Homo sapiens: one gene and its partner. Each later gene encodes a partner of the first gene's protein in a complex. Each region holds a gene or a part of one and is shown on either strand. Other genes may lie near its edges.

What was found.
Region 2: PIGY (region 1) and DPM2 share a complex: the UniProt entries of both Homo sapiens proteins name them as parts of the glycosylphosphatidylinositol-N-acetylglucosaminyltransferase (GPI-GnT) complex.

What each region holds. Positions count from the first base shown.
Region 1 is NC_000004.12:88,520,683-88,525,410, forward strand, and holds PIGY (phosphatidylinositol N-acetylglucosaminyltransferase subunit Y), read right to left. Parts: upstream 3,095-4,728; 5' UTR 3,019-3,094; coding exon of another isoform or gene 2,816-3,018; intron 1,348-2,815; coding exon of another isoform or gene 1,206-1,347; 5' UTR 1,108-1,205; coding exon 892-1,107; 3' UTR 316-891; downstream 1-315. Other genes in the region: PYURF (protein preY, mitochondrial precursor), read right to left, coding at 1,206-1,347, 2,816-3,018. UniProt on the Homo sapiens protein: Part of the glycosylphosphatidylinositol-N-acetylglucosaminyltransferase (GPI-GnT) complex that catalyzes the transfer of N-acetylglucosamine from UDP-N-acetylglucosamine to phosphatidylinositol and participates in the first step of GPI biosynthesis.
Region 2 is NC_000009.12:127,935,055-127,939,108, reverse strand, and holds DPM2 (dolichol phosphate-mannose biosynthesis regulatory protein), read left to right. Parts: upstream 1-1,254; 5' UTR 1,255-1,288; coding exon 1,289-1,291; intron 1,292-1,585; coding exon 1,586-1,675; intron 1,676-1,798; coding exon of another isoform or gene 1,799-1,894; exon of another isoform or gene 1,895-2,292; intron 2,293-2,330; exon of another isoform or gene 2,331-2,453; coding exon 2,454-2,556; intron 2,557-3,328; coding exon 3,329-3,387; 3' UTR 3,388-4,010; downstream 4,011-4,054. UniProt on the Homo sapiens protein: Regulates the biosynthesis of dolichol phosphate-mannose. Regulatory subunit of the dolichol-phosphate mannose (DPM) synthase complex; essential for the ER localization and stable expression of DPM1.

The DNA of each region.
Region 1 (4,728 bases):
GTACTATGCTTGATTAGTCTTGTTGAAAGTTCTAGAAAATCAGGGGCCATTAACGTGTCAATGCTCATGCCCTTAGTGGTGTTATTCGGCATCCTGGGAAAATAAACTGAAATGTGGCTCAAATATGGCTCTAAGCTCAACAGGGTACAATCCACTACTTGCAAGTCTTCCCACCCCTCACTTTCCCAGGAAATGATTCTGTTTTGGGTATTAAGTACCTCTCTAAACACAACTACATTTAGTGCAGTTTTACAACTTCCCTTAGTATCATTAACACTTCTGTGACCAAACAAACAAACGACTACTGCAAACTGGTTTATTTTTTATAGGAAAGTGTCAACATGTTTATTGCTAATATAAGCATTTAATGTCAAAGAAATGAAGGTAATTTTACAAACTCAGTTTTTGTAAGTACATGAAGTTTCTATTTGATTATGTGGTTTTATATCACATTCGTTCAAATGCATTTCTCTCCCTTAGAGGGACTATTCCAACATCACTCCTTTGGAATTATTTCAGTCATCCTTAACATGTGACTTTACCAAAGACCTTGAAGCTAAACAAACAAGCAAAACAAAATTTCAATGACTCTTAGATGAATGGAATAAGAAATAGTCATCACATGTCAATTAGGGATGTTCATCTCCAACCAAGACACTGTCAAAATGTTTCTTCTGATACAGCAGTTATAAGTCAGAGCCTTCAAAAAACAAGGGCAGAACAAGAGTACAATAAAAGAAGCATCTGCAACTTAAGCCTCCCACAGTCCTAAGCCTGATATGCGCAAAGCAAAGCCTCTTTCCCGCAAACTAAATTCCATCCATTTGAGCTTTCAGAGATCGATGCCCAAGAGCTATCATTAATATATACAGCATATTGACTCTAGTTGCATCAATTATGCCTGAAGAGTTTAATACCCATCCAAGTCCAAAGGTGGAAGAATACATACACTGGTATGGTAATAGGCAAGAGCAGGCTGTAAAAGCAAAGGCTGGCTGTGCTAGTGCAGCCCTGTGGGAAGTTTTCTTCCACAGAGGCTGAGTAGAACAGTCCTGCTAAAGAAACCAGTGGAATAAGAACAGTCAACGTAGGAAGAGACAGAAACATTCTTCTCTTCCACTTATTACCTGCCACTGTGTTTTAAAAGGTATATGGTATTAAGAAAAGTTGGCTGTTGCGTTTTTTTAATTTTTTTAAATTATGAACTAGCGCTGCTCCACTTCTTCTTGCTTCTTACTTTGACGTGTCATCCTAGCTGCCTGTGGTATCATATTAGGGATCCCATCAATGATTGGATAAGCTATTCCCAACTCTTCATTAATCAATTCGTTTGTTGATGCTTCATATCTGAGGTGGAAAAAAAAAGAACAAAATGAGTTGTGGGAAAATAAAATGCTTGAAGAGCCTGATTTTCAACAAATACCACCATTTATCCAATTTTTGGTACGGAGTTAATCCCAGAATAGTCTTCTTTAATTCTAAAAGCAACAATAGCCAATTCAACCTTTTATCTTAGAAAAATTCTCTTACAATCTATAATTATTCCCATTTTAGTAGTTTCTCTCATATTCTCTTTTTCACCTTATTCACAAGTTATTCCTTAATTTTTTTTCATACTAGTCAGAAAAGATCCCCCTCTCTTATCCAAATATTCCTTCATTACTTTGGTCAACCCCCAAACCATCCCTGTTAATTTACTACTGGAATAAACACTAGAGAAAAATCAACTTCTTCATTTTAGAATAAATGCTAAGTAGAGAAACTTAACTAATCCATTAGAAGGAAATCACTGGAAAAGGTGAGAGGGCAGAAATGAAGAAACTTTCGAAAGCACTAAGTCTGCAGTGAGCTAGTTATAAACGTAAATCAAATGATAATTTCAAGGTTCGAGAAAATTGAATAATATGTTTATTACGGGAAAAAGAAATACGAAAAATTGCTAGCAATCTACCATTCAAAGATAACCACTGATAACATTTTGGTGTTTATGCGATTTGTAATACTAGCGTTAGTGTTGTCAATATTCAATTTTGGTAGCTTGGAAACTGTAGAGCTGTCTTCCCAAAAACTAGTTAAAGAGGCTTCTACGAAACCTGCTAGGCCACAACTAAGAGCCACTGGGCAGCAAACACAGCTGAATTGCTTAAGATTGTCAGGCACCAGTTGTACAAGACACTTTCACAAGAATCTGGAGGGTACAACAATACTTTTCATTATCTTGGCTTAAAAACCGGAAGGCTTCGGACTTGTCCTGAATCGCAGTGGTTCATAAACCTGGTGGTACATTAGAAATCATTTAGGGACCGTTTAAGAACACAGATAAGCTGGGCGTGGGGGCGGCGCCTGTCTCTCGACTCCTGAGGAGGCTGAGGCGGGAGTTCTAGGCCAGTCTGGGCAACGTAGGGGGCACCCTGTCTCTTAAAAGGAAAAAAAAAAAGGAAAAGAAAATACAAATGTTCAGGTCCCATCCCGCGAGCATTCCAAGTCTGCCCGTCTTGGGGGCTGTCGGGGAATCGGCATTTTTAAAACGGTCCCCGGGTGATTGCAATGCGCAGCCGGTCGCGAACCCTAAAACGCTTCGAGCCATTCCCGCAGGCTGGCGTTGCGTTCTGGGAGATGTGGGACGCAGCTCCCCTGGCCTCCGGTCTCCCCCGTCCTGCCCGCTGTGCGCCCGGCGAGGACAGAGTCCAGAATGTGGCAGCGGAGAGTACCTGACCGACCTACAAGGCCCCAGTGGCTGCAAGAGGCCGCGGTCCACCGCTCCCTTTCCGCCCACCGGGAGGCTGCAAAGGAAGGGCCAAGGCCAGCGAGTTACCTGAGCGGCTTCTTGGAGAGCGGGCACACCAGGAACTCCAGCAGCGCCGGATCGAAGTCGCGGGGCGGCTCCTCAGTCTTCTTGCCCCGGTCGGCCAAAGGCCGCGACCCCGACGCGTGCAGGCACCTACGGGCGACCGCGGACGGCGGCGCGCGCGTTCCCCGCAGCGCTGAGGCGAGCCTGCAGCGTGCTCCACTCAGCATGGTCTGGCAGCCGGAGACCAGGCCTCACCGCAGCCTCGCCACCCGTGGCCGAGCTCCCGGCTTCCCGTTCGTCCAGGCCAGCCGGGCAGGCCCCGCCCCCTGGTCCTCCAGGAAACGCTGCCGAGGAGTAGGCGGGGCGGGCGCTTTGGTTCCGAGGGTGCTTCTGCTCCGACTGCTTTTCCCACGGGCGTCATCTATAGTCCGGAGGACAGCCCCAGGGCAGAGGCCTCTGGTGAGTGCCCCGCCGCCTTACCAGACTACAAACTAAACCAGTGTTTAAGTCAAGGTGTCTGGGTTTTCACCGGGGCCTGTCCAAGGATGCTAGGAAGCCAGTGGCCAGGCCTCAGAGTTGTAGGGAGTTAGGCTTGGACCTACGTGGTTACCTCCAAGTGAAGTTTCAAACACACTGTTATGTATTGTACCGAATGTATTGTCATGGATGTATTGAAAGCGCTCATTTGTTTCATGTACATCTTTACTATACCATTAGTTTCTGTAACCTTGTTTGGCTTTTTTCTCTCTCATTAAAAAAAGTGAGAACCTGGAAGGAAGGGCCTAGGCCTCTGACCCTCCAAAATATATAAATTCTTCCTGCCTGAGACCCAGTCATTGTGAAGTATTTGCGTAATAAAGCACAGCTAATTTACTTCTATAAATGAGCTTGGAGGCCGCAAGGGGCCTAAATAGCTGTGTAACAGGCAGATGTGATCTGCCTGTTAAAGATCCATTCAATGAGTGGGTGATCCATTCAGTGAATTTGTATCCCAGGTTTGCTTCCCACTCTCCAAGAAAGTGACCATGTTAGATCTCTTTCTTACAGTGTAGTAGATGGGAACTTGGGCTCTGGGGCCTGACAGCTTGGTTCCCTGTCCACAATTAGTAGCTGGATGACTTTGGCAAATGACTTAACTGCTCATTTTCCTTATCTGTATAAGACTAATAATTGTACCTACCTTGTAGGTAGGGCATAAATGTGATTGTGCATTCGAAGAACATTTAGAAAAGTGCCTGGCACAAATTAATGCTCCATTAATGTTGTCTATTTTTATTTTTAGTTCATCTAGTTTTTCCATGTCCGAAGACTCAAAGATTCTCATTAGTCATCCATTTTTTCCCTCCGTTCTGCTGAATATCAACCTGAACTTTTTTTTTGCATCACTGGGCATTATCATTTCACACTTTGAGTTCCTGGAGCTGGAAGTACAGAATCCAAAAATATGTTTATATTTTCAAATTTCTCTTCCACTCCAATGTAAAAATAAACTGACAAATGTTTATATGTTCATCCTAATTTTTTGTTTGTTTTTTGGGCCATCCTGTTTTTTTTAAAAAAAACAGTTTATTTTTTGATGTTCTTTGTTCACTAATGCTCAGAAGATTTTCTAAGGTTAATGTAGTTTATAGGATACCAAAAAGGAAACACTTCTACTGGATAGATATTTAAGAGATAATGAAAGTCTCTGGTTGCCTCACCTTCCTTCCCTCACAAAGCAATCTTTCACAGTCATAACTTTCCGTTATTAGAGTTACTAACGGACTAGAGAATAGGGCAGTTATCGGGACATACCCTCAAGGGAAACTACTGTAAAGTTCCTATGTCACCTTCACACTATTTCCGACTAGGGCAGTAGCAGGAATTAATTTTTCAGTTGAAGTCAGTTGATACTTTGGGCTCAAGGGAAGGGGTGAGCTGTAGGAAAGATAAGTTTC
Region 2 (4,054 bases), on another chromosome or scaffold:
AAAATTAGCTGGGCGTGTTGACACGTGCCTGTAATCCCAGCTACTCGGTAGGCTGAGGCAGAAGAATCGCTTGAACCCAGGAGGCAGAGGTTGCAGTGAGCTGAGATCATGCCACTGCACTCCAGCCTGGGTGACAGAGTGAGACTCCCGTCTTGGGAAAAAAAAAAAAAAACAAAAAAACCTCTTTCTTTGGGCCAAGCCTCCACTGAGTGCCAGGGATACAGCAGCAACCTCAGACCCTACCCTCGGGGCTGACAGGGCTGGATCAACAATTGCATCAGTGAATTAAAAGGCACAGGAGGCTGGGCACCGTGGCTCACGCCTGTAAACTTTTGGAGGCCGAGTTGGGAGGATCGCTTGAGCCCAGGAGTTCGACACCAGCCTGGATAACATAGAACTCCGTCTCAAAAACAAACAAACAAACAAAAAAAACGTTCCCGACTGGCTTCCCTGAGGAACGTGGCGTCCCAGTGAGACCGGATGGGTGAGGAGCAGCCGGCCTGTGAGTGGTGGGGGACCGCGTTCCTATCTCGGAGCTGAAGAAGCGTGGAAGATGATCTGGCCCAACATCTCTTTGTTCTCAGAGGAAGGGCCTTCCAAGACCGGGGAGGGGCCTGTGCGTGGGTCCCGGTCCGAAACGTGTCTGGGCTGCTGCGAGAGACAGTCGGTGAAGGAAGGGAGGGGACATCCGAAGGGTGGCCCGGGAGGCCGGGCGATGGTGAGGAGGGCGCCTCCTCTCCACCAAATCCTCCCCATCCATGCGGGCTAGGGACAGACCCTCCCCCGCCCACCCTAGGCTGGAAAGTGAACGTTCTCTGCACCTCTCCCACCTACAGACTAAGTAGGGCACCCGGTTTCCGTGTCGGCTTCACCACTGACTCGGAATGGGATCTACCTTTCTCTGAGCCTCACTTTTCCCATCTGAAAAATGGAACTTCCGATCCCGCACTCCCATCCCACTCTGGCCCCGGGACTCTGGGATACTTAGAGATTGGCTTTTGGTGGGGCGGCGACAGGACTGTGGCCATGAAGGCCAGGGAGTCTGGGTCCCCAACTCGGTCCCATTCCCTAGAGAGATTCGGGCAGCAACCGGCCCCACAATGCTCTTGAGAACTACACTTCGCCGATATGCAAAGAAGAGGAGGCGGTTCCTGCTCGTCTCCGACGAGGTGGGCCCGAGCAGGCCTGGGGACTACGACTCCCGGCGTGCTCCGCAGTCCAAAGCCGGAAGAGCGTGGACCCGGAACCGGATGTGGCTTGCGGCTCGGGTGGCTGAGCGCGCGGGGAAATGGTGAGATTGGCACCGTGTGCCGGAGATAGGGGCGTCTGGGGGTGGGGTCCCGGGTCTGCTCAGGAGCTGGGGCATGGGCACTTGGAACGGGGATTGCTCTCCCGCCCCCACTATTGTACGGACGACAACGCGGAGGCCTAGCATTCTCTCCCAGCCTAGAAACTGATCCCTAGTCAGCCCTCTACCATCTGTTGAATGGGAAGCTTAGACCGTGATCGGGCCGCGACGCCCCGCTTCCATTAGTGCGCCGAAATAGAGGGTCACTTCGTCAGCTGAGACCTCCCTTTTCTCCAGGCCACGGGGACAGACCAGGTGGTGGGACTCGGCCTCGTCGCCGTTAGCCTGATCATCTTCACCTACTACACCGCCTGGGTGATTCTCTTGGTATGTCATTCTCCCCGTCCGCTGCTCACCTTCCCCGAGCCCTGGCACCGCCAGAGCAACTACTATATAGGCTCTAGGCACGGCGCTGGCTTCATTGCCTGCCTCATCTCTTGAACTCTCCAGAACAACTCTATGAGGAAGATGCCAGTGGTACCGCATTTTATAGATGAGATAGCTGAGGCTAGGGGAGAAGGATCTGGCCCAAGATTGCATCCTTAGCCGCTACACTTATAACTCTGTTTCCGGCTTGCTTTGACTTTTGGGGGAGTTCTGTTCCTTCTGGGTTAGCCTGCTGACTCTTAGGCATGGCAAACGCCAGTGATATTTGTGAAGGCCTTTAGGATATTTTTTTCTTGTGGGAAAACTTGTTGGTTATTGCTTAAGAAGTGCAGTGTGTCTGGAAGTGCAGAACTTGGTATCCTTTAGAGAAAAAATATTAGTGAAGAAGCCCTGGAGGCCCAGGTTGGGAGTCAGTCGAGGATTCCTCAAGTACCATTTGCTAGGCTGTGAGGTGCCTTAGGGCAGGTCTCTTGTGCCCTGTTCTCTTGTCCCCACCACCAACCTATAGCAGGCACCAAAGCAAGTGCCCGGTAAATACCAATAAGAAATTAAGGAAAGAAACAAACCACGACACCCAAATGCCGTAATCTTAAAGAAAAGCAAATGCAGTCCCAGTCCTCTGAATGGGTCAGCCCCTTAGATGGAGGAGGTGGGACGTTTGGGCTTGGGGGCTCGGCAAGGCAAGCAAGACACACCAGAGCTCTTCCCTCGATGCCAGCCATTCATCGACAGTCAGCATGTCATCCACAAGTATTTCCTGCCCCGAGCCTATGCTGTCGCCATCCCACTGGCTGCAGGCCTCCTGCTGCTCCTGTTTGTGGGTAAGTCATCACCTCCTCCCCTTGACCCTGGGCAGGGTTTCGGGAAGACCCCACCTCTGAACATGCTTCCACACTTTGGCGGTGCTGGAAGCTGCTTGCCCCGAACTCACCCGTGGGGTTTTCCTGTTCATCCTTCGAGGCTGCCAGTCAGTAACCTCTGGGTTTCCTGGTGCCCCAGGCTTTTTGGACTCCAATGACCTGTCTACCTCTTTCCTGCCCCAACCCCATCATCACTCTGCTCACACCTCAGTCACCCTCTTGTCACCCTGGCTTCTAATTCCTGCACCTCTCTCTCTCATGGCTTCCTAGGGATGGGGACTGTGTCTCCATCATTACTGCACATCTAGAACAGGCTGTGGCACTGAGGCTGTGCTCAGAAAGTCATTTGGATGAGTCAGTCAACAGCCGGGTGCCTGGATGATGGGTGGATGGATGGGTGGGTGGGTGAGGTGTAGGAGGAGGTGGGTAGGTATGTAGGTGGACAGACAAGTGGTTGACCGGGTGATCGATAGATGGGTGGATCTTGTTCCCCTTGGAATCTGAAACACTAAATGCAGCATCTTGCTTGAGGCAGGCACTCAGTTGGTGTTTGTTGAGTGAATGTGAGTAGACATATGCCTTGACGAATGACTAGGGAGATAAGCAGGTTCCCTGGAGGATGGTTGGGTAGGTTCACAGCCCTGTGTGTGGGTGGCTCTGCTGTGTCATGCCCTGGCCTCCCAGCAGCCCTGAGCTTAGATCTTATGTGGCCTTTCTGGTCTGTGTATCCCAGGACTGTTCATCTCCTATGTGATGCTGAAGACCAAGAGAGTGACCAAGAAGGCTCAGTGAAGGTCCCGCAGGGATGAGGCTGCCAGCCCCTTCTCTGCTTCCCCTCCAGCACAGGGACCAAGTGGGGGAGCCTGCAGAACCTGTCCAGGCACAGTGGCTCCTCAAGCCTGCCTGTCCTGCAGAGTCCCCATGGCATGGAGCTTACACCTGACTGACTGGAGCCCCCTCCCCGACTCCCACTTCCAGAAGCTAGGAGGGAGGGATACCTGGAAGACTCCGGTCACCTCCTTCTTGCTCAGGGCCTAAAAGATGCTGGTCCTCCCAACCTCACTCTCAGACTCCCTGCCACCTTTTCCCCTGGGTTCTGCCGTCTTGCCTCACTTCCCCTCCTGTCACATGCTGACGTTGGACTTAGCAGGTTCTAAGGCCACATGTGTGACCTCTCTGACTTCTCTTCCTCCACCAAGGCAGCTTTCCTTACCCTGACACAGCCCCAGACCCCACAAAGCCTTCTGGACCTGGAAAGCCTGGGGAAGGACTGACAGACCCCAGGACCAGCCCTGGGGCTCAGGGCAGCCACCCCGGGCCGCTGACCGACTGACCTCTCCTCACGGAGGCCCAGCCCCAAAGCCCCAGGGCTGGCCCGTTTGGGACAGCTGACCAATAAACACTGATGGTGTGTTTGTCTCTGTGCCGTGTTTACCCAGGGTCGGGGCTGGAGCGGGCT